Regions from separate parts of the Homo sapiens genome. Here region 2 is linked to region 1. The links come from fine-mapping of genetic effects on gene expression. A gene starts in region 1. The other region holds a variant in brackets. All regions are shown on one strand. Distances are between the middles of the regions. Region 1 holds the start of MAGI3 (membrane associated guanylate kinase, WW and PDZ domain containing 3). Region 2 has its middle 110 kb from the start of MAGI3.

Evidence for each region. PIP is the estimated chance that this variant, and not a neighbour inherited with it, causes the effect.
Region 2: its variant is fine-mapped to the expression of MAGI3 in thyroid (GTEx, PIP above 0.99).

Annotation. Positions count from the first base shown.
Region 1 is chr1:113,386,088-113,401,703 of GRCh38, reverse strand. MAGI3 (membrane associated guanylate kinase, WW and PDZ domain containing 3) reads right to left here and starts at 11,189. Exons shown (of 21, transcript NM_001142782.2): 1 at 10,355-11,189. The coding sequence starts at 10,670. RefSeq lists enhancers at 10,144-10,193, 10,244-10,743 and silencers at 10,424-10,583, 10,644-10,773, 11,184-11,543, 11,574-11,623, 12,613-12,857.
Region 2 is chr1:113,272,083-113,287,698 of GRCh38, reverse strand. No RefSeq gene overlaps it. Among named protein-coding and RNA genes, the nearest start is that of MAGI3, 110 kb to the left of the region's middle. The variant G/C (reference allele first, on the strand shown) is at 7,834.

The DNA of each region.
Region 1 (15,616 bases):
AGAACATTTTCTAGGCTCTCAGTAAATGTGCTAACACCTTCCTGGTGAGTGAATTACAGAGGAAGTAGAAAGGAAACACAAGAACAAAATATTATTTCTAATATGCAATTTTCCCAAGTATATTTATCCTAAAATATGTATCTAATATATTTATCTGGGCTTTTACATATTATAGAGAATATTTTCCGCAATAAAAATATTCTGCTGAAAATATTCTCTTACAAATGTAGCAAGAATACTAACTTTCTGCTTGATTAGCAATTCTTGGAAATAACTACTTTATCATGCAGCTTAGCTGTACAGATTAAACTGCACGGCCACAAACTCTGTTTTGAAACAGAACCAAGCAGTGAAGCCTTTATTGTAAGTACTTGCCCAGTGTTTTACTGCATTTAACACCCACGCAAACAATTCAGAATTGTGCTTTTTCCTTTTACTAGAAAAAGGAAGACAGGTTTTTTGGATATAATGAACTAATATTCTATCCAGAAAGTAAAGAAAGACTCAACGCTGTGTCAGTTCATAATTCTTCCTGTGAGTCTGTGTGAACTTTCACGTGTTAATCTCTCTAACTCAATTTTCTCATGTGTAAAGGAAGATGATAATATCTGACTCATAGAGAATAAAAATATATAAAGTTCTTTATAAGAAAACATGAATGCTAATATATACATCCTTATAAACCAAATAAGACAGGTATAAAATGCCCTGACATGGAAGTTATTACTCTAAATGACAGCTAATATGTTGTGATAAGTCCTCAATATTCCTATTAGAGTAAGGTTGTCTAAACTTAGGGTTGTCACCCAAGGGAGGCTGAAGTGTCATTTCAGTCATCAGCATTACATTGTGAGATTGCTCTAGTTAGCAAATCTAATTCTATTCAAAGGAAATTAAAATTTTCACTAGCATGTGCATTCTAACTTAAACACTGAAATTAGTGAATAGAATTCTTAGCTAAAATTAATAATATTTTGACAAAGTGTTCTGCTGAAAGCTACCAAGTTGGATTGAGATACAATTCTGTGAACAGAGGTAATAAAGACTATATCATTTTACTAGATTTCATGGCTTAATTAATCAATATATGGAATTAATATTGGAGAACTCTAATTATTACAGGCTTTTGAAGTAGAAGCAGTAATTTTCCAAATATGGTCTAAAGTCATCCGAAGGGTGCCCAAACTAATCTAACAATACAAAGTACTTGCTATGATGATTCTTACTGGCAAATCACACCCAATTCCATGAATGTTCATTTTTATGTACAGTAAGTGCATTCACCAATAATCTACCAACATTTAATATTCACTAAAGATCCAACTACCAGATGACACTTGGCAAAACTACAAAACTCCTACTGTGCATGGCATATATAAACTCAAAGTTATTACTAAAATTATTATTTTTATGGCACCAAAGCTGAAGACATTGATACAGTAATAGAATATAAAAATAGTATGAAATGTTATTTGGAGCACCCACCCCTCTCTTTCAACTGTCTACCCCTGCTCTGAGTACCTCTGTTCTCCCAGTGGAGGCTATAAAAAACTTTAAAAAGGGGATCAGATTTTATCCTGCAATATCTGCCAAATAACATTTTTGGTAATTAAACAGTTACCACATGACACCATACTTAAGTAATGTTTCAAAACTCTTATATACCCATTTTATATAAGAGTCAGTGAAGTAGTTCCTTTCACATAATTTCCACGAAATCATGGTTAAAAAGTATTATTAGGGAGCCCTCAGAAATACTACAATAATGACATTGTCTCAATTTGTGTTTAAAAAGACCATTGTTTTAAAAGCAAAACACCTTGGAAAGTAATTCGTTTAGAATTTCATTTTCAAAATGGTAGAATAAAATTGTTTTAAAAACGTAATTGTTTAACTAGGCTAATAATATTTTTCTCAATGCCAAAGACTGTTAATCTTCCAAAGTATTCCATCTCCCTAAAAATCAACAGCATTGATTTTAGAGAATCTTATTTAATTTTTTTAAAGAAAATTAAATAAAAATTACAAGAAATACTTTTAAATTGTGCACATTAAGGTATCAGTATTTCAATTTTTTAAAGAAATAACTTTTAAATAAAAGCAATTTTTTATTTAAATATTTGAGTAAAAGCAGTGCCTAGAAATCAAATCAGTTTTGGTTTACAGCCAATATCTGTTTTTCTAAAAATGATAGTTTTATGACAACTGTGTACTACTTCTGGCCTCCAAGTAAGAGAGATTAAATGTTTTAAAAGAGATCATTTCCTGTAGTATTGATTCCTCGGCATCCCACCCTTTCAGGAACTCCCCCTCCCTTACGTCTTGGGGTTCTGCTACAGTTATTAATCATATTATGCTATTTATACCCAGCTGCAAGGGTAGACATGTCCCCACGCCTGACCAATCATGGCACTTCATTGTCCTCTCCTCTCTCTACAATAATTGGTCCAAGAGATGGGCACAGGGCCAAAGTCCCTGCATGAGATTTGTTATTAGACTCCAAAAAGATGAGAAGCTTTAAGGACCCTGTATGACTTCGGGGTTCAGAGCTACCTTCACCGCTACACTGACAGTCTAGCTGAGAAAAAATCCAACCCAGAAGAAAAGAGAACCAAATAATAATTCTAATGACCAACACTTGAGAACAGAAGTTAGCTGTTACTGATCTATGCCTGGATTTTAATGTATGTAAGTCAATAAATTTCTTCTTAGCCTACATTAATCTCAACAGCGTTTCTGTCACTTGCTACAGAATTCTTACAAATACAGAAACTGATATGTAAATTAAGATTTTTTTCTTTCCTGCTGAGATCTAAGCTATATATCACAAGATACTTGCTGCAAACTAGATAACCATATCCAAAGAGTAATATATCTCTGGAACTACTCCATTAAAGTGAATTTTTAAAAGTTATTTTATTGGAGGAAAAAGCAAAGCCAATTTAGCTTAATTCTATTTAAGTTCAGAAAATGAAGCATTAATAAATACTTGTTTTTTTCCTACCTTGTAGGATATTTTCCTTTCATAAAACTACTTCTGTTAAATGCCATTATGTATAGTAAAATCCCATTTTTCATAGTCATGTGTAATTCCCAATCAGAACAACGAGATACAGGCTTGCCTCTCACAAACTCCCCTGAAGCCAGAAAATAATAATTACGTGTTTCAAATTATGTGCAAAAAAACCAGCAAAAGCAAAGAGGCTAAAATGCCAGAAAGTTTTAATTAAGTAGATCGGTTACCGTTCACATTGTATACCCAAGACAATAAAAAGGGAAGCCTCCAAATAGAAAAGATCTTAATTATTAATAAATTTGAAACAAAATTTTTTCCAATTACCACTGCATGATATTTTTTAAAACCAAACCCTAAACTCCAAACAAATTATGGCAAAAAAGTTTAACCCTTCATAACCCATACAGAGTCTCTAAAACAATATCTCTCAGTATGTGTTAATAAAACAAGTACCTAATCACCTATAAGGACAGCGTGTCCTTTCTCAGGTATTTAGATATGTCATAAGTCAAATTATGGTCCTCAAAATGTAATCTATGTTCCCCTGGCCATGTTGGGATGACTGAAATGGGTGGGGGCTGCAGGTAAGTGGGTTGCTCCTGGAAACCACTGCAATGCAGCTGAGTGGCTGCATCAGGATAAATTGCTAGGGTTCAGGGAAGAATGGAGATATAATGATGCCACCCTTCTCACTGGAAGCCAGTCGGCTGTGGCTGTAACAAAAGGGAAGGCGGGATTAAGATGAAAATATATTTTTCAATTCCCTTTTTCCTAGGCTAGCAAATTGTGTTTTCCCATAAAACTGGCTAGACTTCCAAAACAACAAAAATAGGGCTATTAACCATAAAGAACAGAACTAATGGTACATTAAGGGTTAAATAAAAATATTCATAGTATAACATTATGAGTGGAATGAGGCTGAAGGCAGAAATAGCATTAAGCACCTTAGAGCATTATTTCGAGGAGATAACACATTTAAAAAAAACTTACAGGAGACTATTCATAATGGAACTACCTATACATTTAAACAATTAATATGATCTTCCCTCTATTTTCCAATTATTCTATAATGTGGATTTTGTGCCCTTGTACAAAATAATTTCCAATTATTCTATAATGTGGATTTTGTGCCCTTGTACACAAACACACACAAAATTATTGAGATGGACCACACTGTAAACCTTTCTGTATGGAACGTTTTTGCCCTGTGTTTTTCTCCTCCTCTGCTTCTTACCTACTACTGGAAAGATCCTAATTCCACTCAACCAAAATCTGTCATCTTTCAAAACCCAAACAAGTTCAAAATTATTCACAATTCATTCCTCAACCACTCAAGTCAGAAAACAAGGGCAGATGGCGTGGATCCTACCAAGATATTAAAAAGAAAAAAAGAAAAGAAATCATTCTTTCACTTCATGTACACATTTAATTTCCATAAATTCACTGTACATACCTAGATGAGGATAATTTCTTAGAATTAAAAGTTTTTTTGTAAAACATATCTTTTTAATGCAAGCAAATTACTTCTTCTGGTATTCGACCAAAAAACTGCAATTGGTTCCAACATGGGTGGAAAAGTGGCATTTGGACTCATCCTACAAACAGTACAATATAGTATTTTATGCACAATTTAAGGGCTTTTTGAAAAGACAGTTTTGCTTATATTTGATTTCCCTCTTTTTGTGATGACTTGAGAACCCAAATCCTTTCTAAAATGCAGCTCCACTACTTTTTCGAATAGCACACTATGCAGCCAGTTAGTCTCATTTTCACCAAAATTCATACTAAGACCTACCTAAAGAGTTTTAAACACTGGCAGAAAAGTGAAAAAGGCAAAACCCTTACTACAGGTATTCCTTACCAATGAGTCATTAAGCTCCCACTAAACTGCCAGCTTCTTGAAGACACACAATTTCTGACTCATGTTTATATCGCCAGTGCTAGCTCCATGCTGGCACTTGGTGGGTGCACCACTAAGTATTTGCTGAGGGAATGAATGCGTGCCAGTAATAGGACTTCTTATTTTTTCTGTATTAAATAAAATATGCATCTTTTCTTGGAAAACATTCTGAATAATAGTTGTTCTTCAAAAACAAAATATTAGCAAGATATTTTGTTAGCAAAATTAGCTAGAAGAGCAATGAATGGATTTGCCTCTTTCCCTACAAACATGTCTCATAACACCAGCTTCTAAGTTTCTGAAACTCTTACTTTAGACAATAGTTTTAAATTCAGGGCATTCACTCTATCTACCAAAATGTAGTATTTCAAGAAAATTATTGCTCAAAATTTCAGAAGACAAAAAATAATTTATTAAAGGCGAAACGGTTCTAGTCTTCAATACCAAAACACTTATCTTTTGTCAAATCACACACACACACACACACACACACACACACAACCCTGACATTCACAGATTTTGAAATTGGTAAATAATACTGAAGTAATCCATAAAAACAAGATTCTCTTTCAACATACTCCCAAAACACTAAGTCCCCCCAAAAATTACAAAGCACTTAGGGGTTACATAGTAAAGACTCTGTATGAAACTATCACTTGAGAAGATTAGGCACTGACTTCATAAGTCAGACACTTGAATGAATTTAGAAGATTTGTTTTGTCGCCAGTTTACATAAATTAGCAGAAAAAAAATCACAAAAATTTGTCTCTCAAAACAAAAGGTTTTATAAAGTATGTGCCAGGATCTCAGAGGAAAAATAATGTATACGTCCCAGGAACACAGAGTTATGTTACATGAAAATCAGTTTTAGCAATAAACTGAATAAAATTTAAAATCATCTAAAAATCAAATGGCCAAATGTTAAGTATTTGTTTGTACCAGTAAGATAGCAAGAAATTAAAGAATTATTAAAATGCCTCAACCTAGGAAAATAAAGTTTTACAAACTAAATTATAAAAGTCTGGGGGTGAGGGCAGGATCAATAAAGTACCCAAAATGATATACTAGAAAATGATATACAAGAAAAGTTAACAAAAGTATGTGTGTGTGTATATACATATACATATATGCATATAATATATATATACACACACGTATATACATATATACATACTGAGATATTTGGATATAGTACTCTTAGAGAATGATGGAGAGAAAATATTTTTTAAGTACAAAGATGTTAATGATATAATAAAAGTCATCAAATATCATGCAAGCAAATCAGCTTGCAATTGCTAAGGTGTAAGCCCATTACTCATATGAATTGAAGGTGTCAATGAACAGAATCCAAAACCTGAACCCCTGAGTTATTAAGAGCTTTAGGGAAAAAAGAAAAAAAAACTACCAAAATTTGAAATAGGAAATTTTCAACTTCAAGGTTTATCAAAATGTAATGCTACTTTCCCTAGCAAAGGGGCTTGGCTTGCTTCTTTTTCTATTGTTTCTAAAATAATCTCTAGGTCTCTAGATTTTCTTGTTTTAAAAAAGGTACGAAGAAATGTATTGTAAGCCTGGGAGGCTAACAATTAACTCTAAATTCTCTTACCTTTCCCATCCTCATATAATACAACCACCTAAACAAAACTCATCAAAAATCCTAAATATCCCACTAAAAAAAAAAAAAAAAAAAAAAAAAAAAACTAACAAAAAGATTCAAGAGATAAGAAAGGCACAGCATTATTTTTATTTGAATAACATAAATATTTCCTATTTTAAAGCATCCAGTAGTGTTTCTTCACCAACAGGAAGTGTATTTCTAGGAATTAGCCCATTTTAACAAAACTCCCTTACAAATTGGATGTCCCAAAGAGTCAGCAGTGAAGACTTTTACCTACCTTTAACATTACCCAGGAACTGTTTCAACTTGGTTTTTATTTAAACAAACTATAACATTGTTTCCTATGATTTCCATCCCTGGATACACTACTTGCTTAGGGTAGTTGAATGTAATGTGTGCATATGGCAGTAGACAATGATTTCATGTATTTATTGTACCGATACTTAATCTCTGGAATAAAATACACATAATTTACTGAAACTTACTGAAAGCAAACTGCTGAAATATGAGCTTAAAGGTGTATGAAGAAGCATAAAACTCTGCACAATTAGAGTCTGGGGAATTTCAGAACAAAATTCACTACTTGTATATTAATCAGAATAGAAATGGTTTAAGAATATATACTCTGTAGTAAAATCAAAGAAACTAAACCTAGTCATAGTAGTATATCACAAAACAATTTCACCAGAGGTCCAAAGTTCAACTTTACTACTGGGAAAAGACAAAGTTCAAACTCAAATGACAACTTTTCTCTTTGCAGAAAAATAAACAACAGGGTCATAATTAAGAAACAAGTAACTAATCGAGCCAAGCAATAGGTGAAACCAAAGATTCTTCTATAAGCGGGCAAAGTACTGACTACTAAGTACTACACTAAAACAATAAGAAACTACCTAATTGATTCAGGAAAAGCTTCAGATTAGAAACCATATTTTAAAGAGTAACTTTCAATTCTCTATTAAAGATTATAACAACAAAAAAAGGGAAAAAAAATCAAAGCTAAAGACAGTAGCTGCCAGAAAGATGTTAAGTCACCTGGCTGATAGTACTGGCTTTGGGAGGGCGACCCTTAGCACCTAAGTGAAAAGAAGGCTAGGAAGAATCAGTGCTACAAAAGCCATGTTCTACAACCCAGCTCATCCTTCTGCCATGGACTTTGTCAGAAGACAATATGAGAACATTTCCGATTAGTATTACATCTTACAAAAATGGTTAAATTTTACTCTTTCACTGTGCTAGTCTCTAAATGTCATGTTATGAATATGGTTTAATAAAAAGCAACTAGTCAAGACAAGAGAGTGCTAAGTACACTTTACAATACCTTATTAAATTGAAAAATCAATTTCTGTCACAAAGTTTAGATAAAAGCAAAAAATAAAACAATGTTTATGGCAAGTTTCTTTTTAAATTCCCTTACTCTATTTTCATCCTTTCCAAAATGAATCACAATAAAGAATCTTTGTCTCTTCTGAAAATAATATTTGTTTTTAATCAAACTCAAAAGTTCTACAGATAACCTCTTCAAATTCTTAATTTCTAGTATTTAAAGTCTGTTTAACCTGCAAAAATCTTGCTATTTTATAACAAATGTTGCTTTTAAGCAAAGCCATTTAAGAAAGCCATTTAATATAATACCTAACATGAGGCTATTAAGAAGCTAAGAATACTATTTTTAAAAGAGATTAAAAATTTTAAATTACAACCTGCTTAGAAACAATATTAATCTCAAATAACACAGACATAATGGTATCTTGAGAAATTACTGACACAAAGTGTCTCTTCAAAAAACAAGTGTAGTATTCAGAACTTTATTACTAATGACTACAAAATGTTCTGTGGCCATTAATACGTTATTCCCTTTATTTTGGCTAAATCTTTAAAATAGAACAGTGTCTGTGGCTGTCAAGAGGGCAAAACTGTATTACTCTAATAATGTCAACTACATACGGGGGCATAGGATGTTTATTCAACACAGTTAATATTACTAATGCTCTAAATCTTGAATTATTGTTAAATATAATATAGAGGTTGAGAAAAATGTATAACAGGTAGATTAGACTAATGTTATGAAATAGCCATCTCTTCAGTCTTCTAAAAAAGATCACAATAATTTAGAATACACCAGCTTCCATGTCAATATATCAACTTTAAAATTTCTAAAAATAAGTTATATTCTCATCTATGCCCTAACGAATCAAAACAAAACACAAAGAAATGATGCAGATGTTCTCACTATTCACTAACTCATGGGATTTGAACTAAGATTTGGCAGCTAGACTAGTAAATGCTGTCTATATAGCCTTTTGCATATTACAGACAGTGCCTGACTAGCTGAATTACAGCCCCAAAAGTCTTTCCTCTGCCTTTCACACATGGCTGTAAAAGTTAGAGTTAAGAAAAAAATTTACAAATTCTCAAAACTATACAGAAAAAGCTGTTTAAAGTCTGCCAAAGTTTTAAAAAATTAACAACAATAAAAAGAAAACCTCACCACATAAACCCATACACTTAAAATGAATACGATGGAATACGCTATAGAAAGAAAATCTTAATTATGACCTTAGGAGCATGTGAGTCTGTGTGTATACATATCCACAATACACAGACATATGTAAACTGCACCACAAACCATCAAGCCCCATTAAGCTCAAGGACTATTAAAGATATATTAATATTTCCAAAGCGAGCTGCTGAGAAAGAAATGAGAAGGAGATAACATATTAAATTTTTATCCAGAATTTTCTAGCATTTTGCCATCAAGGGATGGACTGCTACCTAGCCCAGGTAACAATTAACCAGCCCATTATATTTTGATGCACCGTATACTCAGCAGAGCACATTAAGGAAAAACAGTTTGGTTTCTAATAATGTTACAATCACAATTCTCTCTCCCACAAACATCTAAGACGACAGAACCACATTCTATCTATGCTGAAACAAAACCAACAATGCTGTCTATAACAAATTCATAAGAACTACTACATACTATCAGATCTCACTGTATGCTGTCTCTGATCAATGCTTTGAAACTGACGAGTATGCCATAAACATAACGTGCTTTGCAGCAATTTTTACTAGCATAAAAGATACCAGGGCAACAGAGGCTCCTTTAACCTACCACTTCAACAAAATTCTGTAAAATCAAAAGCGTTACAGAAGCTTTCACTCCGCTAGGCACCTAGGTCTTCCTGCAAAACCCAGACTCTATTCAACAGCTCCCTGCAAGAACACACCAGTCTGCCACATATCACATATTGTACCGTCATCGGTACTCAGACACCTGAACCACCTGGACTGACAGAGTTAGGCTGTCAGCTCTGAGATGTCTGCTAGAGTGCAAGAAACACTGAAGCAGCTAAGCCCTTCCAGGTACACCAGGTGGTAACCTTGGCACCAAGTGCCTCTATAGTAAAGTCCCTTTTTCCCTGTTAGAAGATGCGTAAGATCGTTCCAAAGAAAATGTTACAATCCTAAGGGCCTTTTTGCACAACACAGGAAAAGGCTGGCCTTCTCTAGTCAAAAACTCTTGTCTGCGGGGGGAGATGGAGCTACAAATGTAGGAAACCCAGCTTCTAGTCGCAATTCTGTGACAGCTAGCACAGCTAGCAGAGCAACCGCGCCAAGCCAGAGCTCAGTTTTCCCTTCGGCAAAATGGGACTCACCAACGCCACCCCTCCCCCTCGTCAAGGAGTCTGGCACACCCTAGAGGTCTAAGATTACCCGGGACAATACGCGGTGGGGAGGTGCCGCCGCTCCCAGGACGCCCACCCTGAAGCCCCTCTCCCCAACACCCCGAGACAGATACGCAGGGCCGGCGTACCTGGTTTCACAGTCTTGAGACGGATGGGCTCGCGGAAGTGGCGGATGACAGCCAGGGTGTCCCGGTTGGTGAGCCCGCTGACAGGCGTCCCGTTTACCTCCAGCAGCACATCGCCTGGGCTGGGCGCCTTGCCCGAGACGACGCAGCAGGTGCCCCCGCCGGGCTCCTCGCGGAGCCGCCCCAGGTAGGGGAACTCGCCACGCTCCGCGCCACCGCGGATCTCCGCGCCGAAGTCGCCCGGGGGCCCGGCCCAGGACACGGCGCACTCCTGCACCTTGCTGAGCCAGTGCTTCTTCTTCTTCAGCGTCTTCGACATCCCGAACCCCGCTGCACCATGGGGGAGACCCCGCGCGGGCGGCCGGGGCGCCGCTCCGGCCCCGTCTCAGCCCGGGGGCCCTGGGCGGCCCGCGCAGCCCGGTAAGGGGGGCCTCGCCGCTCCGGCCCCCACCCCGCGACCACAGCCCGCTGGGGGCCCGGCCGTTCCCAGACGCGAGACGCCCCTTGGACGCCCCTCCCGGCTGCGCTCCCCGGGGCTGACCGGACTCCGCGAGGGCCACCGCGGGTTAGGCTGAAGAAAGGAAAAGGGAATTGTCCCCAGGAGGTTCCAGAAGGGGCTTCGGGCGGGGTCACTGCCGCCGGCTGGTCCCTGGGCTCAGCGCCCGAGCGGCGGGAAAGGCTGAGGCGGGGGGGCGGGGAGGTGAAGGGGGAAGAGCCGGGAACGGGAAAAATCCGTGGGGGGCGCGCAGAAGCGCGCGTAGACCCGTCGCGGGATCGATCGTGGCCGCTGCGGAGCTGTAGCGCGGAGACCAACGCCTGCCCAAGCTGCCAGGAAACTGCCGCTTTCAAACCAGCCGCAACCTCCTCCTCCTCCCTTTTCCCTTCCCCCGGCCCTCGCCCATCCCTCATCCAGAGCCCCGCCCCCTCCCGCCGCGCGGCGCCCGGCGCGCTGCCGTCACAGGCTGGGCGCTTGGGAACGAGCCCCGGCCCTGGACTCTCGCGCCAGGGATTGGCCCCCGGCGGGCAGGAGGCGGACCGCCAACGAGAATGGGGACCACTGGTTGGTCGGTGCGAGTGGAGGAGGCGGGCACTAGAATGACTGAAGTTTAGAGAGGGTGGAAAAAAGAAGTTTGGAGAGTGAGGGAGGGCGCAGAGGAGGGGCAGGGGAGTGGAAGGGGCTGTAGGTCGCAGGGCCGGGAGAGGCCCTCTGCGCGGCGGCTGGAGCCGAGGAAAACTCGAATCCGAGAGGGACCGAGCTCCCCGAAGTGGGGGCGTGGCCGGCGAGTTAGGCGGAGACGCGGGCGGAGCCTCTGAGCCTGTGCGGGGCGCAGAGAGGGGCCGGTGTGCTTAGATTGGAAGACAACGTGCGGAGTCCTGAGCCGGCCGAGGTTCCGGGGCCTTTAGGGTGGCCTGTTACAGCCGATAGTTTGCATTGAGTGGATATTGCTTGTTCATTCGTTCATTCAACAGATGTTACTGAACGCCCATTGAGGCAGGGCTTCGGAGTCCGGTTGATGAAAGATATTATAAAATAGAGTCCGGCACTGCTGTATGACCTAAGACAAATTAGACAACCTCTCTGAGCCGCAGCGTCCTCAGTGAAAAGTGAAGATTACAGAAGATGTACAAAATAACTGCATAGTGCCTGACAGTGGGTGGTTGCCTCTTAAAGTTTGGTAGCTGCTGCTGCTGCTGCTGATGACGATGACGATTTTGTGTTAGATATTGTGCTAGGTACTGGGATTCAAGGGTGAAGAAAACAGAAGCCCCGCTATTGAGGAGGTTACAGTCTAGTGGGAGAGACTGAGAAGTAAGCAGACTGCCTGAGGTGAGGGAGTGGGGTGGAGGTAGAAGGTGGATTATTAAGAACTAACCTGGTAGCCAGCAGATCTGGTTGGAGTCCTGACATGCTACTTACTTGCTGTTTGACCTTGGCCAAATCTCAGTTAAAGGAGGTGAAGGGAGAACGAACATTAAATAAAAGATATCGTAGATCCCTTCCAGCTCTAATTTTTCAGAAATTTCACTTGAGCTTTCTCTCTTCCCCGGCTTGACTTACACTCTTCCCTGTCTTTGGAATGCCCTTCATCTCATCTCTTTTAAAACTCCTATCCGTCCTCATCCCAAATGCCGGCTCTTCCAGGTAGCTTTCTCTGATTTCTTGCCCTCAAGTGGAAAGTGTTTTCTCTGAGCTATGATCTTTGTTTCACTTTTGCAGCATGACATTTATTTGTGTAGTCTCCTGTCTCCCTTTAATAGTAGGTGAAAGCCCTTATAAAACTCCACACCTCAGATAGACTGGACCAAGCTTCAATAGCTGCAGTGATTTCGTTGACACCATTGTATCAGTCAGGGTCCTGGCAGGAAACAAATGGCATTTTGCAAAGATGTGGGCAGGGTGTGGGAAACCACAAGAGAAGCTGGAACCCTGAGGCTACAGCTCCTAGATCTGTCCAATCGGGAAAGAACAGTTACCGAAAAATCCAGACACACAGGGCCACCTGACAGGAGTCTGTGACCTTCAGTCAACGGATGCAGTCAGCCTAAGTAAACACCCAGCAAAGGACCTGGGGGATTTATATCTAACTCACCACCCTCCTCCAGTCTCCTGCTGGTGCTTGTCAATGGCCAAGTCCAACCAGACGCCAGAGGGCAAGGGAGGCTTTTGATATAGTTCATATCAGTCAGTTTCAGAAAAGGAAACAGTGCATCTGAGGGGAAAATATTCAGCACAGACACCATGTGGATGGCTCAGATTTAACCATATCTGAGACAAAGCTTGGAGTATTTTTTTTCTAAACTACTACCTATACTAATGGATTCCTGGATAAAATCTCCATAACCTACACATCATCTGTTTTTGCAGGAACTCTGGGAAAACATCTTTCTGTGTCTAGATTGCATCTGTTAGAATGCCTTTGGCCTCAAGGAACAGAATATTTGGCAGTAGCTTAAAGCATGAGGTCATTTACTATATCTTCAATATAAATTTCAAGTGCAGATAGTTTCAGGGTTAGTTGAGCAGTACAATCATGTCATCAAGGACCCAAGCTCTTTTTTGTGTTTGCTCTCTGCCATCACATGCATGTGAGCTTTTGTCTCCAGGTTTGTCACCTCTTAATTGCAATGTGGCTGCCATAGCTCCAGACATCACATCCACAGAGGTCACTGCACAGAGCAGGAACGGAAGAAAAGGAAGTGCTGTCCCCCATTTTTATGAAGGAGAAAAATATTTCCCAGACTTTAGAATCTTCCTTATTGTCCAGAAAATGGTCATATGCCACATCAGACCAGTCACTGGCAAAAAGAGATAGGATTGGCCACAGTTCATTAAATTGATCACAAGTCACCCCTAAACAAAATGAGTGTTCTGACTGAGAGCAGAAAAGGGGAAATAGTTGCTAAGTAGGCATCCAACAGTGTTTGCCACATGCCTCAACCATGAATAAGTTGTATTCATTCTTGGGCAGAAAACTGCAGTGGTTCAGAGCTTGAGCAAATCAGACTGCAAATCCCAGCTTTTCTACTTACTGCAAATCCCAGCTTTTCTACTGCTAGCTCTGTGATCTTGAGCAAGCTATTTAACCTTGCCTATCCTCAATTTCCTCATCCACAAAATGGGTTTGATGACAGTGTTTACCTGAGTTGTTGTGAGAACTGTATGAAGCTATTTGAGTCAAGTAATTTGAGTCAAGCTATTTGATAACATAGGATGCAGCATAGAGCAAACAGTAAATTTTTATTTTAGTTTGTGCTAAATTGTACTATCTTTGACAAAGCTAAAAACATTGTATTAAATTCACCCATCTTAGTAAGCTTTGGTTCAGTTTTTAAAATATTCTAGAAATAAGCTACCCATGCTATTGAATTAATTCTGGTAGGATATTATTTTGGCAATTATTACATAAAGGGGTCATATTTTAAGCTTCTATCTCTAAAATGACACCTAATTAAATAATCGTATTGTATTCATGTTTATCACGACTTTCCAAAAATAATGGTTGGTTTAATAGTTGTGATTTCCATTGGGGAATATTAATAAACCAAACAACATGGAACAAAAATAATAAAAATAAATGAGGCAATTGAATTTGGTGATCTCCAAGGTTTCTTTGGGCTATCCCTATCTAATCTATCTAATCTATAGAGCTAGAGATAGCTATGTGTGTTAGGCCATTTTTGTGTCATTATAAAGAAATACCTGAGGCTGGGTAATTTATAAAGAAAAGAGGTTTAGTTGACTCACAGTTCTGCAGGCTGTACAAGCATGGCGCTGGTATCTGCTTGGCTTCCTGGTGAGGCCTCAGGTAGGATTCAGTCATGGTGAAAGGTGCAGCAGTGGCAGGCACATCACATGGTGAAAGTGGGAACAAGAGAGGGTGGAGGTGCCACACACTTTTAAACAACCAGGTCAGGTGTGAACTCACTCATCGCCAAGAAGACGGCACTAAGCCATTCATGAGGGATCCGTCCTGTCCCCATGATCAAAACACCTCCCACCAGGCCCCACCTCTGACACTGGGGATCACATTTCAACATGAGATTTGGAGGGGACAAATATCCAAAACATATCAATATGTTTCACTATGGAAACTTTACAAGTTCAGTCCCAAGATGGCTGCAGAGGCTCCAAGTATCACATCCACACACAATAATGGCTAAAGACTGAAAGGAGGGAAAAGGATATTTCCTTTCCTCATTTCCTTTTTGTAGATCAAGGAAGCCTTTCCCCGAAAGGCCTCCAGCAAGACTTCTCCTCTAGCTTCTTGGCCACAGTTTCCCAAATTTCCTTTACTAAATGAATCTTTGCCAAGGGTAATGAAATATCTTATTACTTATCCAGTATCACCTCTGGTACTCTGAAGGGGGCCCTGCCTCTTGGCTGCACAACATAGGGACAAAACTTGGCGGGGAGGGGTCTCTTAGTAAATACAGGGAGGGGAGATTAGCTTTTGGGTAAGCAACTCACAGTGTCTGCCACGTGTACACTGCATTGATTTGCTTCTAATAATTTTTTTTTAAGCAAGGTGGAAAGTTTGTTTTGTTTCATAATATTGTGCCTAATGTTTCTAATGACAGTTAAGTAAACCCACTCCTGACCGTGCACGGAGGCTTAGGCCTGTAATCCCAGCACTTTTGGAGGCCAAGGCAGGCGGATCACTTGAGGTCAGGAGTTCAAGACCAGCCTGGCCAACATGGTGAAACCCTGTCTCTATTAAAAATACAAAAATTAGCCCGGCATGGTGGCAGGCACCTGTAATCCCA
Region 2 (15,616 bases), 110 kb after region 1:
AATGGAATTCCAGTTTCCCTATTCCCTATTTCTTCTTCTGAGCAGCACTTGAATGGCTGGATTTGGGATCAGAATCAATGCCTTCTTCCTGCAGTGTACCTTCATTATATCATTGAGTCAAAACAACAAGCTTCACAGGGAAACAGATTCTCTGTCCTATCTTCTTTGAAGACATTCTTCTCATCTCTTTTTCATCTGACTGCACACTGCTCATGTGGATATTAATTTGTGTCAAGCTATGCTTAAATTTTGAATGTGCCTCCAAATTTATATTCTAAGTGAAAACTCACAAATCTGAATATTGAAACTCATTAAATAATTAATTTTTCTAGGATTTCTTCCATTTTGAGAACAGCAGACTTTATAAATACATAAATATGAACTGAAGCTTGGAAATTGAGGCAGATAATATGTGTACAACTTCAGTGCAGAATTAGGGAAAAACCAATGCATTATGTTTTTAAAATCAAAATGAATTAGTCAAGAGGTTTACTTGAAAACAACATAAAAAAAGACTTTAACCTATCTTGTGTGTTCCACAAATTGTGAAATGGAAAGTGAATCTTCCAGTTATTATTTCGGAATGTTTTAGTCCCTAGAAATAGCTACAAATTAGACTCATTCACCACTGGAAAGCTCTGAGTTTTCTGCACTGCAATTCTATATAATTTATATGCTATGCAAATCATGCTCCACTGAATACCATCTAATGCATTTATTCTTCTTCAAAATTAGCTAAACACTGCCTTCTCTTCTGCTAAATCAATCCGCCTGCAAAGGCAGTTGTAAGGATACTTCTCTGACAAGTGCTGTTGCTTCTTAGCTTCTCTTTGCCAAAAGGCATATGACTGGACAATGGTAAAAAATCTGTGGGGCCTCATTTCACAAAACCTAATTTAAAATCTGTATGATGCTAAAGGTGTGTAGAAGGAAACATGAAAGAATGGAGGCCAAGTTTCCTGGAGGTAGAGGTAGGGACTTGGGAATAGACCACAAAAGTACAGAGCCTAAATTTACTTATGATTTTATGAAAATGTTTATGAGAAAATTGACTTAATCCAGAATAGTATTTCTCATCCCTCATTACATTCTAATCATCATCTGCACTTATCGATATTATTGGAATAACTCCGTTAAGATGTGTTGGAGGGCAGTCATTCTAAATCTCTGATTTTCAATAATGCTATTTGATGAGAAGGTGCTGGCATAAACAGAGGATCATTTACATCTTTAAGCCCAGATATGCTAGGCTCAGCAGCTACTTCACTGAGAAACATAAGGGATCCCAGTATAATCCAAGTAGGAAACAATCAACCCTATTATCAATTCTCATGTTGTATGGAAGCCATTTCCCTCCCTCAGGCCCTCTGGGACTCCCTGTTTATGACTTGGAAGTCCAGAGGTCTTACCAGAAGGAATGCATTCCGTGAAGGAGCAACATGCAACAGGACCATACATTTGAAGTGTTGGGCCTGGGAGAGACATCATTTCATGGACTCCATCCATTTGTCCCATGTCATGGAGTAAGTAGCATGACTTAGTGGACAATTACAGAGGCTCTACAGACAGAGTTCAAGTCACCACCTTTCTATTTAAGCTGTGTGTGCTTGGGTAAGTTAAACTTTCTAGACCTCAGTTTCCACATTTGTAGAATGGACATAAGATAACTACCCACATCACAGAACTGTTCAAGGCTTAAAGAAAGTAAACCACACACAGTGGCTAAGAATCAGTGTTCAGGAAATGCTAGTTGCTATTAACTGTCAGAGTTGCCTTGTTCTCTCCCTATTACCAGAACTGGGATGACTAATTTGATTTATCTAACCCAATGAATGTCTCACCTTCCCCTATTGTAGAAGTCCTTTGAAAGGACCTTAAATGCAATTGTATATTAAATATCTAAGCAGAATCAATATACAGGCCTAGACTTCTGTTTTTTTTAAGTTTTTTGTTTGTTTGTTTTGTTTTGTTGTGTTTTTGAGATGGAGTCTCGCTCTTGTCACCCAGGCTGGAGTGCATTGGCGGGATCTTGGCTCACTGCAACCTCCACCTCCCAGGTTCAAGTGATTCTCCTGCCTCAGCCTCTCAGGCAGTTGGGATTACAGGCGCCTGCCACCACACTCAGCTAATTTTTGTATTTCTAGTAGAGACGGGGTTTCACCATGTTGGCCAGGCTGGTCTTGAACTCTTGACCTCAAATGATCCACCTGCCTCGGCCTCCCAAAGTACTGGGATTATAGGCGTGAGCCACCGCGCCCAGCATTAAGTATATTTTTAAATTTTGGTTTTTTGGAGATAGGGTATCACTCTGTTGTCCAGGCTAGAGTGTAGTGGTGCCAGCATGGCTCACTGCAGCCTCGACCTCCTGGGCTCAAGTGATTGTCCTGCCTCCTGAGTAGCTGGAGCCACCATGCCTGGCTAATTTCACAATTTTTTGTAGAAATAGGGCCCACCATGTTGCCCAGGCTGGTCTCAAACTCCTGGGCTCAAGCGATCCTCCCACCTCAGCCTCCCAAAGTGCTGGGATTACAGGCATGAGCCACTGTTCAAGGCCTATACTCCTGTTTTTGAAGTGGATTTGGTTTTACAGTTGGGGTAATGCCTCAGTGCACAGATTATGCTTCATTGGTGCTAATAAATCTATAAAAGTTTTATATCTCTGCTCTGTATCTGTAAATCTCTGACAGATGTTCTTCCTGGTAATGAGTTTGCCTTGACATCTTCCCAAGTAAATCTCATTTTTAAGAAAAGAAATGATGTAGATGTTTAACTTAATGTGATAGATTTTTATAGTAATGGTTGTCAATGGATTCCACCACCTCAAACCCATGCATTTGAGTAGTGCCCTCCCACATTGACTTGGGCTTGGCCATATGACTTGCTTTGGCTGATGGGACATTAGCAAATTTGACAGAGGCAGAGGCTTGAAGCATGCTTGCCCATTGGGCTTGACTCTCTCTCTTGTTGCCAAGAATTTTTCTGGGACCATGTGAAGAAACCCAAGCAAGACTGCTGGAAACAATGACCTAGCCAACAGCCAGCATTAACCCCCATCCATATGAGTCAGGCCATCTCAGACTATCAGATCCCATCTGACTTGTTAGATGATTGCAACTGCATTAATGGCTTCAGGTGAAAATAGCCCCAGAAGAGATCAGCAGAGACCAGCTGAGTTCAGCCCCAACTGTTGACCTACAGAATAATGAACATATAAAACAGTTGTTGTTTTAAGACATTAAATGTTGGGATGGTCAAAGCAATAGATAACTAATACAATTAAAATTAAAATTTACAGATACATTGGCAGTTATTTATGTCTTCCCCTTTTCTGTGTTTCCAGCAAAGGCATTTTACTGCATAAAAGAATGAGATTAATGTGTGGCAAATCCAGAAAGCCCACTTATTCATTTTAGTTGATTTTGGATAAATGAGAAGTGAAGTGGAGTCTGTGCAATTTTCAAAAAAGTGTGGCAACAGAACCTTCACCTGAACAAAGTGAGAATTTCTGAATGGCAGGAGAGAGATTTGCTGGCAGCAAGGACATGCTGTGCTCCTAGGAATAACTCTCTGACATCATCTTGTGTGTTGCAGCACCAATTCTTCCTCCTGACACTTAGCATGCATGACTACACTGGCATTTTCAGCAGTTTTTGAAGAACATAGATTTTCATCTGGCAAATGGATGCAGCCAAGTGGTCAAGTAAAATCTGGGGGACACAGTTAAAAAGAAAAATGCCTGCACAATGTATATTTATGACAAGGAAGTGAATGGAAAATGAACTCTGAAAGAATCTGAAGGGCTCAAAATAATAATGAGAAACAAAAGAAATGGATGCATTCAGAGCAGAGGGATAATACTAAAGCCTCTGACTTCTATGTGGTTCTGGCCCACATCCAGGGCCTTTGACCCATCCAGGTCCAAATAAACAGCTGTTAATACTCGTTAACTTCCCCAAACAAACAAAATGCAAGCGGACTTGGAAGATTAGGTTGGGTTCTTAGATTAAGGTGACACCAAAACTGTCAGGATTGTGGGTGGCGAAGGTGGGGACATACTCTAAAATTTTCAGGATTCAGTGGAGAAGCCCAGACTCAATTAACATTTCTTACAGGAATCAGAAATGAGTATCTGTTGAATACTTTGTTCTGGAGGAGAAGACACTGTGGGGATTCTGACTGATGCTGGTGGTAACAAAGAGAAGAATGGAAGGTAAAGGAAGAAACCCAAATGCGAGAAACGGCTTCATTCAGCTGTCCTCAAACAACTGCTATATATATATAACTTTTTTTTTTCTTCCCCTAACGGGGACTCTTCTTTGAGATGGAGGAAGATTTTACCTTGGGATGCAAAGGCTGTTTTTAAATCTTAATTTAAATATTACATAAGGTCGCAAGGTCATTTATTGGTTCCCCACCCCAGGATTCACTCTCCCTTCTCATGGTGTTATAGTGTACTTCAATTCTGCACAGAGACAGCTACCCCTCCTCTCCAGGAAGCCAGTGCACTTACAGCGAGATGCTGGTTCCCCAGGGCAGGCACACGACCTAGATTAAGCCGCCACCGGCACATTTTAGCTGCCCGAGGGGCACGTGACCCCACTGAAGCCAATGAAATGCGATAGGCTTCTGGGACTGAGGCAGACACTTCTGCTCTACTGGAAGCTGAGGGCTGGCACCGCCATTTTCTACCGGGGCACTTAGATTCTGCAATGAAAGCCAAAAATATGGTGAAAGACAACCATATAAGGTGAAACATAGAGCTCTGAATCCAGCCACATCTGAAACTATACTTACCGCCCTGGACGTTTCATCTACACAGGCCAATAAATTTAATTTTTTTGCTTAAATTGATTGGTGTTCTGTTTTCTGTCACGTGCTACCAAGAGAGTACTAACTATGCATGCTTATCACATTTTTCATCTATGAAAATGGGAGAATTCTGCTAGAAGATATCATAAATCCACAGCCTATAATTCTGACTTGAAGAGAAGAATGGGGGAGGAAGAGCCTTGTAGTATTCTGAAGCAAAACAGTTGTTTCCAGAGAAACTGCCTCCCATGTTTGTAATCAGTTCAAAACAATTTATTGAGTGCCAACTGTACTTTAAGCACATGTTATTTCTTTCTTTCTGCATCACCATGAAAGGTAAATGTATATTATCACACTGACTGCCATTTATATTATGGGTTGAAACGTGCCCTTGAGCATGATATTGCTATTGTGATTAGAATCTAGTAGCAGAAAAAGCAATTAAAGTGAGACAAGTGCATTATCATCTTTTAAATAGCATTTGTTGGACCTGTGTGAACATTGTCTATACCTTTTATAAATATTGCCCAATACTGTGTTTTTAACTAGAGTTATGCAGGCATAAAATATCCTTGGCTTGCAAATTTTCTATTAACTTGAACATACTGGGAATGCTTAGCAGCAATGAAGTGCTGAAAATGCCAAAGAAATTAATGGCTTTGTGCTGTACTACTGAAACATGTCCGCTAATATTTAAAATTCCATGTCCCAGGACATCACTTATATCTGCTGACTGAAGCTGAATGGCCTGGAATCTGCTGGGTGCATCAGGCCATTTCTCAAGTCTCTCTCTGTTGGGCTTTTGTTTCCCTCTCTCTTCCATTTCTATTTTCCCTCTCTCCATCCTTTTTCCCTAGCTCACCCCCATTTTTCTGGGATTAATTGAGAATGTTATTTATAAGAGACTAGAAGAGAGTTATACATATGGAATAGGATATGATTTATCAGGATTTATTTCAGATTTCTTAAGTTTAAAAAAGGTACTAAATATCCATGTCTCATTTTAAGTATTCATATGAAGTCAACATTTATGGACCTTGAAATCCATTGTTTTCTGTGTCCTTGAGAGAAATTTTACAGGCCTTGTGCAAGGTTTATGTGTTCATACATCAATGTCACTGTACTCTGAGGTTCCCTGGTTCATGCTGTCCCTCAGATGATGTCTGCCAGAGAAAGCAGAGTGTCTGTGCTAACCAGGCCATGGCAATGACCTAGTTGAGGACTCTCAGTGTAACTTTTGTGTGATCTCTCATCACTAGAAGAACTAGTACATATTATATTCCTTGCCATGAAAATAAGGGTATGATTTTACATGGGTAATTAGTCAGTTCATGTATTGCTTACATGCCTAGTCTGGGTGGTTCTCATTTTGTTTCTCCACAAACATTTGTTAAGTACCCACTCTGTGCCAGGCTGTGAGACAGGCACAAGAAAAATTTACCTGCTACTCAACATCTCCTTGTCAATGGTCTACAAGTGCCTTTAACTTAACACATCTGCCACTAACCTCATTACTTACCCCACCCAAACAATAGAAATGACAACAACAGCAGCAATAGCCAAAACAACCCAGTCTTTCACCTCTGTATTTTCTACCTCGATGAATAGGGTCATGCGTACACTACTAGTCTCTTAACCTAAAAACCTTAGTGATCCATAGTCTCCCATTCTCTCCCTCACTCACCATATCCAATGGTAGACTAAGTCTATTTATGCTCCCCCTTAACATACCTCAGGTAAACAGACCTCTCTATCCCCATTAGCCTAGCCTTTGTCCAGACCCCTAAACTCTCTTGGTGTCTCTCCCTCAAGTGTCTCCAGCTGCGATTTATTTACATGCTGCTGCCAGAGTTAATTTTCTAAAATACAAATCTGACCATGTCACTTCCTTACTTACAAACCTCCCTTGGCTTCCTACCTACCTTGTAGGATCAATTCCCATATTCTTTGCATGAAAAGGTGCTTATAATCTGGAAGCTGCCTATTTTTCCAGGCTCCTCTCCTGGTGTTCTTTCCCACATCTTGCTCTTATCTCACCAGGCTTCACACACACCATACATGCCTCTGGACCTTTGAACATGGTGTTCTCTGCCCCTCAAAAGCTCTTCTCTACTTCTCTACCTAAAGAGCTTTTATTTTCTACTCAACCTTCAAGAGTCAGCTCAAAGTTCCCTTTGTGAACCAATTTCTCTAGTTGCTTGTCATTGCTCTTCTCTGTGTTCCCAGAGTCCTCGAGGCATATCTTTACTAGCTCTTTCATACCCAATTGTGACTATTTGTCTACATGTTGATCTATACTATTAGCCTGTGAGCTCCTTAATATATCTTGTTCTTCTCAGTATCCCCAGTATGCAACACAGCACTTGGCTTTACAGTAGATACTCACTTGGTGTTGTGTGGAAGGTAAAGAAATATAAGGCACATTTCCTATCCTCTCCCTCCCATCAGAAAGGTAAGATAAGATATACACATTATTTGTGAAAAATTAACTAGCAACGGGTAGTAGTAAACAGGTTGGTGGGTGGTATAGTCTTACTGATTTGGGAGAAATAAATATTTGGGAATGGCAAAGTCAACAAAGGATTTGATTTGGATCTTGAGAGTTTGCAATTCAGTAGGTAGAGAAGGGGAGGAGGAAGGAGAAGAGAAACATTATTAACTAAAGTGCAAAGGCAAGAAAGTGCAGGGCATGCTCAGGGCTGGAAGGTGGGGTGGGACCAGGCTGTGGAGGAACAAGAATGTCAGGACATGGACTTTCTCCCATAGGCAACTGAAAGTTTTTGATCAAGGAGGTAACTGTTGAAAATGATATTTTAGGATTAATTAGCAGGTAGTATACAGGATAAACTAAAGGTAGAAAAACAAGTTAGGAAGTTATTGCACAATCCATGTTTGCGGGGGCGATGAGCTCTCATCCATGGTGGTGACAAAAGGAATTAGAGGGAATGGGTAGAGTGCTGTCTCAAGAGTGCAATTGAATAACCAGGGCGACTCCTCAGCTAAAAAGAGAGAGACACAGACACA[G/C]ATGACCCAGAGATTTCAAGCCAGGGAGGAAAAAAAAAGGTAACTTTTGCAAATAAGAAAGTCAGTGAAAAGACTATAATTTGAGAGGAGATAGTGAATTTTGTTTGAGACTGGTTACATTTGAAAGAACTGCAGAATATCTGAAAGGAAATGTCCAGCAGGGAACTGGAGATTACAGACAATATTGTGTAGTGGTCAAGAACATGGGTCTAACCAGACTGGGTGTGAATCCTGGTTACACCAGTTATTAGACAGGTGATTTTAGGCCTCTGTTGCTGCATCCATAAGAGGGGCATAATTACAGTCCTTATCTCATAGTGTCGTTGAGATGATAAAGCAGATAATGCACATAAAAGCATACCTCACACACAGTGTCTGGCACACGGTAAGGGCTCAATAAATATTGGCCATTATTATTAACTAAAACTGATAACAATTTTTAGAGTGCCGAAAATATTTTCATTTAATTTTTCCAACAATTATGTAATGCAAGTAATGCTATTACCATTCCATTTTAGAGTGAGGAAACAATAGCTCAACAAGGTTAATTGATCACGTAACAAGTAGGAAGCAGAACCAAAATTCAAATCCAGGTTTTCCAAGCCAAATCTTCCATGTTATTCTTTTTAACTTGCTGAGTTTGATTTAGTTTGGAGGACAAAGGGTGTCTGTCATACAACCTTCTAGCACTACCAAATTTTAGGACTGGGTTTTGACATAAGGTTCTTATTGTCACAACGATAATCTTACCTGAAATATACCAAAGCTATCAAGTTCAGCAAAGAATAAGAACTTTTTAGAGAAGGGAGTCATTAAAGGTTATTTAGATTCTGCCAAGTTTTTGTTGAGCGTAGGCACTTCAATGCCCACTCCATCCCTACCAACCTTCCAAGGCTCTAGTGTATATTCAGAGACAAGTCGTCTCCTTTAATTTAGAACACAAGATGCTAATAACCGTCTGATACCTGTCTGCAAGACTCTCACCCGGCTGGAACAGCTGCCCATAAATCTCACACTTCAAGTGATTCTTCCAACATTAAAAAGATGAGGAAATTTTGTTGAAGATGAAATTGATGATGAGTTTCTGCCTGGTAGCTGTGAAAATGGTTATTGCTGACCCCTTTCTGTCTTTGAATTATTGCTTAGCTTTCTGTCTGGACATACAGAAGGAAGAAATCTTTGGAGATGTTGCCAGATAAAGCTGACTTACTTTGGATTCCTGAACAAACAGTAGGTCTAAGAATAGACTCCAAGGGGAGACACAAGGGAGCTCTGTGGAACCATAAGAATTGGGCATATTGTTCACTTTTTCCAGTAACGCCTTTGATTTAAGAAGTGAATAAAGTTATGGCACAGTGCCATGGAGAATAGGAAAGAGCACTGGAGAGGTGATAGGCACTTTTGAGAAAGTTCTTTTCTTAAAAGAATTTAAAGAATGAGTTGGCCAAATCATGTTCTTCCACCAAGGCATCAGAACAGGAGACTGGTCTGTTGGTTTTATCATGAAAGGTGGAGACAGAAAATTTTGAATTCTAATCCTACCTTGGAATGCTGATTCCATCATGGCCAAGGGCATTTTCTATTATTTCCATGCCACTTTTCCCACATCCATAAAAAGGAATTAATCAAAGGTGTTGCTAAGATTTAATTAATTAATACTGTAAAGTGCTTTGAAGATGAAAAGATTATAAATATCTACAGTTAACTGCTCTTTTATAGTTAAAGTTAACAGTAAACCAATCACATGGTCCCCAAAATAGCTTAGGGCAAATGAAAGTGGCTTAGCTTTGATATGTACCTTTCCCTGACATTACATTATAGTTATTACAGTTAGGGGGAATAGTTACAGATATTACAGTTAGGGGGAAATTGCTGGGGCCCTATTCTTGGTCTTTTCAGGATTTTTTATTGTTATTGAAAGGAACAGAAGTAAAATAGTTTGTCTCCATCAGGATAAGAAAATTAGGAATTGGGAAGCCAAGGCAGGAGGATCATGTGAAGCCAGGAGTTCAAGACCAACCTGGGCAACATAGCGAGACCCCACCTCTACAAAAAAAAAAAAAATTAGCCAGGCATGGTGGTGTGCACCTGTAACCCCAGCTACTTGGGAGGCTGAGGTAGGAGGATCGCTTGAGCCCAGAAGTTTGAGGTTACAGTGAGCTGTGACCATGCTGCTGCACTCCAGCCAAAAAAAAAAAAAAAAAATCAGGAAACCTAGAGAAAAATAAAAACAGATTCAAGTATTCATAGTGTCCCCACCAGGATAATTTGACCACGAATTCACAATGGCAGTGGGGAGAAGAGAGAGAGCGCGCTCACAAGTGTGCTCCTGGGCCTTCCCAGCCACACACGCAAAAAATAGCTTTCCTCAGATCAGAGTTTTGTGTGTGGTGTTGTTAAACAGATAACAGAGAGAAGTGGAAAGAGACTGTGGTGTTAATTAGACTGATTCCAGGCATACTTCAACACTTTCCAGCTGTGTGATGCTGAGCAAGTTACTTTTCCTTTTGGAACCTTGGTTTCTTCCTCTGTGAAATGGGGATCACTCCTGCCTCCTAGGATGGTGAGGAAAACAGAAATAATTGGTGTGAAGTAACTGGCGGATAGTTCTTCCCCCACTTCTTACCATTATTTTCATCCTATTTCTTTTCTTCCTTCAGCCTAGATTTTCTTTCTCATAAGCTCCAGAAATACCAACACGTTGAATTACTGTTTCCAATTCAGAGCTGTTGGGATTGTCCTATTTGCTTTCCATGTTTTCAGTGAAGAATCATGAGGGCTGCATCCCACCTATGAAACAACATTCCATGGGAGGAGGCCTTATTTTCAAAAGCCAAGGTTTCTCAGGGGGAAACTCAAATTTAAAAAAAAAAGAGAGAGAGAGAAAAAGACCTTGGATTATTTTTCAAACCCCAGATTTCAATGCAGCTGTCTTTCTATTCCACCATCTTGCAATTGACATCCTGTGTTTAAATTTCTGAGAAGGATAGTGATCTAAAAACATAACTATTGTAAAGGAGAAAAGCCTGAAACTGCTGGGTGTGTGCTTTTTCAACTGTTATCAAAATGACCAAGAACCTCTCCTTTGAAGTGAAGGAGCTCCAATAGGCATCCCTGGAGGCTTTTGTGAGATAGCATTATGTTTCCGAAAGTTCCCAGAAAAAGCCGTCATTGAGATTCACAGATTCTGAGAATGGTTAGAGCTGGGGAAGCTGGGGGAGTGTGGGGGTGAGTTTAGAGATTATGCAGTGCTCCCCTGCCCTAGCCTATTTCTCTGATAGATACATTGAGTTCCAGATTCCCAAGAGACGTACACGCAAAATATGTTAGAATCATCCACCAGGCAGGTAAATATCACTCAGCAATCTGCCCACTCAAGAGCCAGTCTATCAATGTGTGACCATTGCCATAGGAAAAAAAAATCACCAGATAAACAGTTACAGCTACTTGGATGTCTAAAAAGCATAGAAAGGGCAACTTTAAAAATAAAACTTTAAAAAAGTCACCTTCAAATCGGGGACAGTGGATTGGGTGAATCCTGAAGATTTTTTCAAGGTAGATGAGACAAGGAGGTCAGGAAAGGATTGTTGATTCTAACAAGTGGATTGTTGAGAGTTCATCCACCTTTTCCTCTCCTGGCTCTCTTCGTTAACATCCTGAATGCTGTCACCTTTGACATGTCTGAGTACAGAGGACAAAGACATGAAATAAGCAGAGATAGATACTGTATATTTTTAATACTTTGAATATACCCTTTATGTTTGGCCATACAGAATAACAAGCTTGGATCAGTGTAGTTTTTGTTTTTGTTTTTGCCAGTGTTAACCTGCTGCACCTTGATTTATAAAGGAATTAATTTAGAGGAAAGAGAGAATGCTGACATCTTTGCTATCAGGCTACCTATTTGAGCTTCAGGCTACAAGCAGGAAGAAAGCAAGCAGGCAAGGATGTCACGCCCCTCAGATGTCCTGCCTTCTCTGGAATGCTTCACCATGAAATGAGGATTGAGACAGCCTAGCTACTTACAGTCTCAGCTGTCACCAGAGAAAGAGCATGTCTGCCACTCATTGCACTTATGAAGATCAGCAACCTCTAGGGTTCTTCAACCTGAGTTCAAGGCAGGTATGTGGCCAAGAGTAGGAACATTCGAGAAGAAATCCATAGCCAGATTCCATTTCACCTTCCCATTATCCATCTTCCAGTCTATCCCAAATCCTTTAACCATGAGAGAAAGAGAAGGCCATGCAGCAGAGCCTATTGCTGTGATTTTAGCAAGATCTTTCGGGGCTTTTCAGCCCTTGACTCCCTTGGCTAAGGTGGGGTGTGGGGGTGAGTGCAGAAGTGGGTTGTTCCTGGGCAATAAGTCTCCCTTGGGCTTGTTACTCCACAGATGAAAAACACAGACCCTGACCAGATCCTTGATGTAGAATAACTTCCTGTTTTGCTCCAATATCTTTAGTTTCTGTATTTTCAGAAACAAGATGAGTTTTTTCATTATCTCATTTCCCATCCCTGCTCAGCTACACTGCTCCCACCAGGCACCATCTTGACTCTCTGCTTTTATGCATATGCTCCTCCTGCCTGGGACTTCCTCTCCCACCTCTGCACTTAGCCAGTTCCTGCTCATTCTTTGGGTCCAGCTGAAACATTACCTCCTCTAAGAAGCCTGCCCAGTTATATTTCCTTTTTCTGTGTCCCACGGAATTCCATATCTATTCCTTTTGAAATAGGCATAATGGAAACATTTATTTATGTGTGTGTGTTTCTCACTAAATTCTGAATTCCCTGAGGATGTGAACTTTGATATTCAGTTTTTTTTTTAAAAAATTCTGTTACTAGCACACTCTTTGGCATGTAAAATACATCCAATAAATGCTTCTAGAATAAAGAAATGAGTGAAAAAAATCTCACAGCCAGAAAAATGGGAACTGACCAACAAAGAAAAATATTTTCTACAAATACAAGAAAAGAATAATTACTATCCATAATATATAAAGATTTTTTTTCAAATTAATAAGAAAAAGATGAACATACCAATGAAAACCAGGCCAAGGGCAAACACTAACAATGAAGGAAGAAATACAAATAGATAAGAAAATTTATGAACAGATTTCAACTTCATTTACTAACAAACGATGCAAATTAATTTCTCTATCAACTTGGCAAAGATAAAAAGATTAAAAACAAAAATTAAAAAGACAAAAGCAAAGTTGAAAAATGTTTACTGTTATTGAGGATCTGGTGAGATATGCACTCTGATGAGTAAAAAATGTAATCTTCCTGGAAAGCACTCTGGACATGTGTACGTATGTGCCAAAAGTCTTAAAAATGTTTATACACTTTGACCTATAATCCCAGTTATACAATCTATTATAAAGAACTAACTAGAGATGTAAGTTAAAATCCATGTATATGTATGACATTCAAAGAAATGTTTATAATATCCAAATTGAAAATAACATAAATGTCCAAAAATAATAGTTAAAAATTAGTCCCATAAAATACAGTGTCATACAGCCATTAAAAACATGTTTTTGGCTGGGTGCGGTGGCTCACACCTGTAATCCCAGCACTTTGGGAGGCCAAGGCGGGTGGATCACGAGATCAAGAGATCCAGACCATCCTGGTTAACACGTTGAAACCCCGTCTCTACTAAAATTACAAAAAAAGGTAGCTGGGCGTGGTGGTGGGCGCCTATAGTCCCAGCTACTCGGGAGGCTGAGGCAGGAGAATGGCGTGAACCTGGGAGGCAGAGCTTGCAGTGAGCCGAGATCGTGCCACTGCACTCCAGCCTGGGCAACAGAGTGAGATGCCATCTCAAAAAAAAAAAAAAAAAAAAAGTTTTCAAATAATATGCCATAGGATACATAAGAATATTCCCCACATAACATTATGAGAAAGAATAGAATGCAAAATTGTATCTTATGTTTCTAGTTTTATCAAATGTAAATAGCTAGATGAATAGATAAGTCTGCAGAAAAATACTAGAAAAATATATACTAACATACTAACTGTAGTTATATCTGAATGAAGAGAATTATGGATGGTTTTTATTTTGCTTTTTATGATTGTCTTGTTATCCATGTTTTTTACAATAAGCTTTTCTATTAGGACAAAAGTGAGCTTTTATACTAAAACTAAAAAAGAACTACAACAAGATATCACTACACACCTACCAAAATAGCTAAACTAAAAAATACTAAAACCAAATGCTAGTAAGGATGCAGAGAAACTAATCACTCATCCATTACTAGTGGGAACGTAAAATGGTACACCCATTCAGAAGAGAATATGGCAATTTCTTACAACATATGTACTTATCAAACAACCCAGCAACTGCACTCTTGGGCATTTATCCCAGAGAAATAATAACTTATGTTCACACAAGAACCTATGCATGAATGTTCATAGCAGCTTTGTTAATAATAGCCCCAAATTGGAAACAACCTAGATGTCCTTCAGTGAGTGAATGGTTGACTGTTTAACTGTGATACATCTATTCCATGGAATACTACTTAGCAATCAAATGGAACAAGCTATTCATACATGCTATAACTTGGATAGATGTCAGGGAATTATGCTGAGTGAAAAAGGTCCATCTTGAAAGATTATGTCCTGCATGATTCCACGTATATGACATTCTTGAAATGACAAAATTATAGAGATGGGGAACAGGTGAATGGGTTAGGAAGGAGACGCAGGAAGAAGGTGCCTGTGCAGGAGGGACCTTTGTGATGGAACTGTTCTGGGTCTTGACTGTGGTAGTGGTCACACAAATCTGCACATGATTAGAAATGCATAGAACTAAACACACATACAAATTAGCATGTGTAGAACAGTTGAAATGTGAGTAAGGTTGGTAGATTATATCAATGTCAATTTCCTGGTTGTGATATTGTACTTCTTTTAGGCAAGGTATTAACATTGAGAGAAACTGGGTGAAAGGCATAGGGATCTCTCTGCATTAGTGTTTACAACTGCATATGAACCTACAGTTATCTCAAAGAGTTAAAAAATAAAAGAAATAGAAAAGATTGCAATATGTGCATCTGATTGGGATCCTGATTCAATCTACAAAAACACACGACACTACAGATTTGAACGGGGGCTCAATAGTTGATGCTATTAAGAAATTGTAGGATTGTAGGTTTTTAGTTTTAGATGTGATGATGGAGGTTATTGTGGGCATTTTTTTAAATCTGTCCTTATCTTTTAGAGACCCAAACCAAAATATTTAGGGATGAAGTCATATGAAGCACTTACATATCTGTAAGTGCTTCAAAACAATGTGAACAGACCAGGCGCAGGGGCTCATCATGCCTGTAATCCCACCACTTTGGGAGGCCAAGGTGGGAGAATCACTTAAAGCCAGGAGTTAGAGACCAGCCTGAGCAACATGGCAAGACTCCATCTGTGCAAAAAATAAAGTTGAAAAAAAACAACAAAACAAACTAGCTGGGCATAGTGGTGCATGCCTGTAGTCCCAGCTACTAAGGAGGCTGACACAGGAGGATCCCTTGAGCCCAGAAGGTAGAGGCTGCAGTGAGCTGCGATTGTGCCACTGCACTCCAGCCTGGGTGACAGAGTGAGACCCTATTTCAAAAAAAGAAAAAGCAATGAGAGGCAATTCACAATTGCAAAATTGTGGAACCAACCCAAATGCCCATCAATCAGTGAGTGGATAAAGAAACTATGAAAAATACATATGATGGAATACTACTCAGCCATATGAAGGAATGAATTAACAGCATTTGCAATGACCTGGATGAGATTAGAGACTATT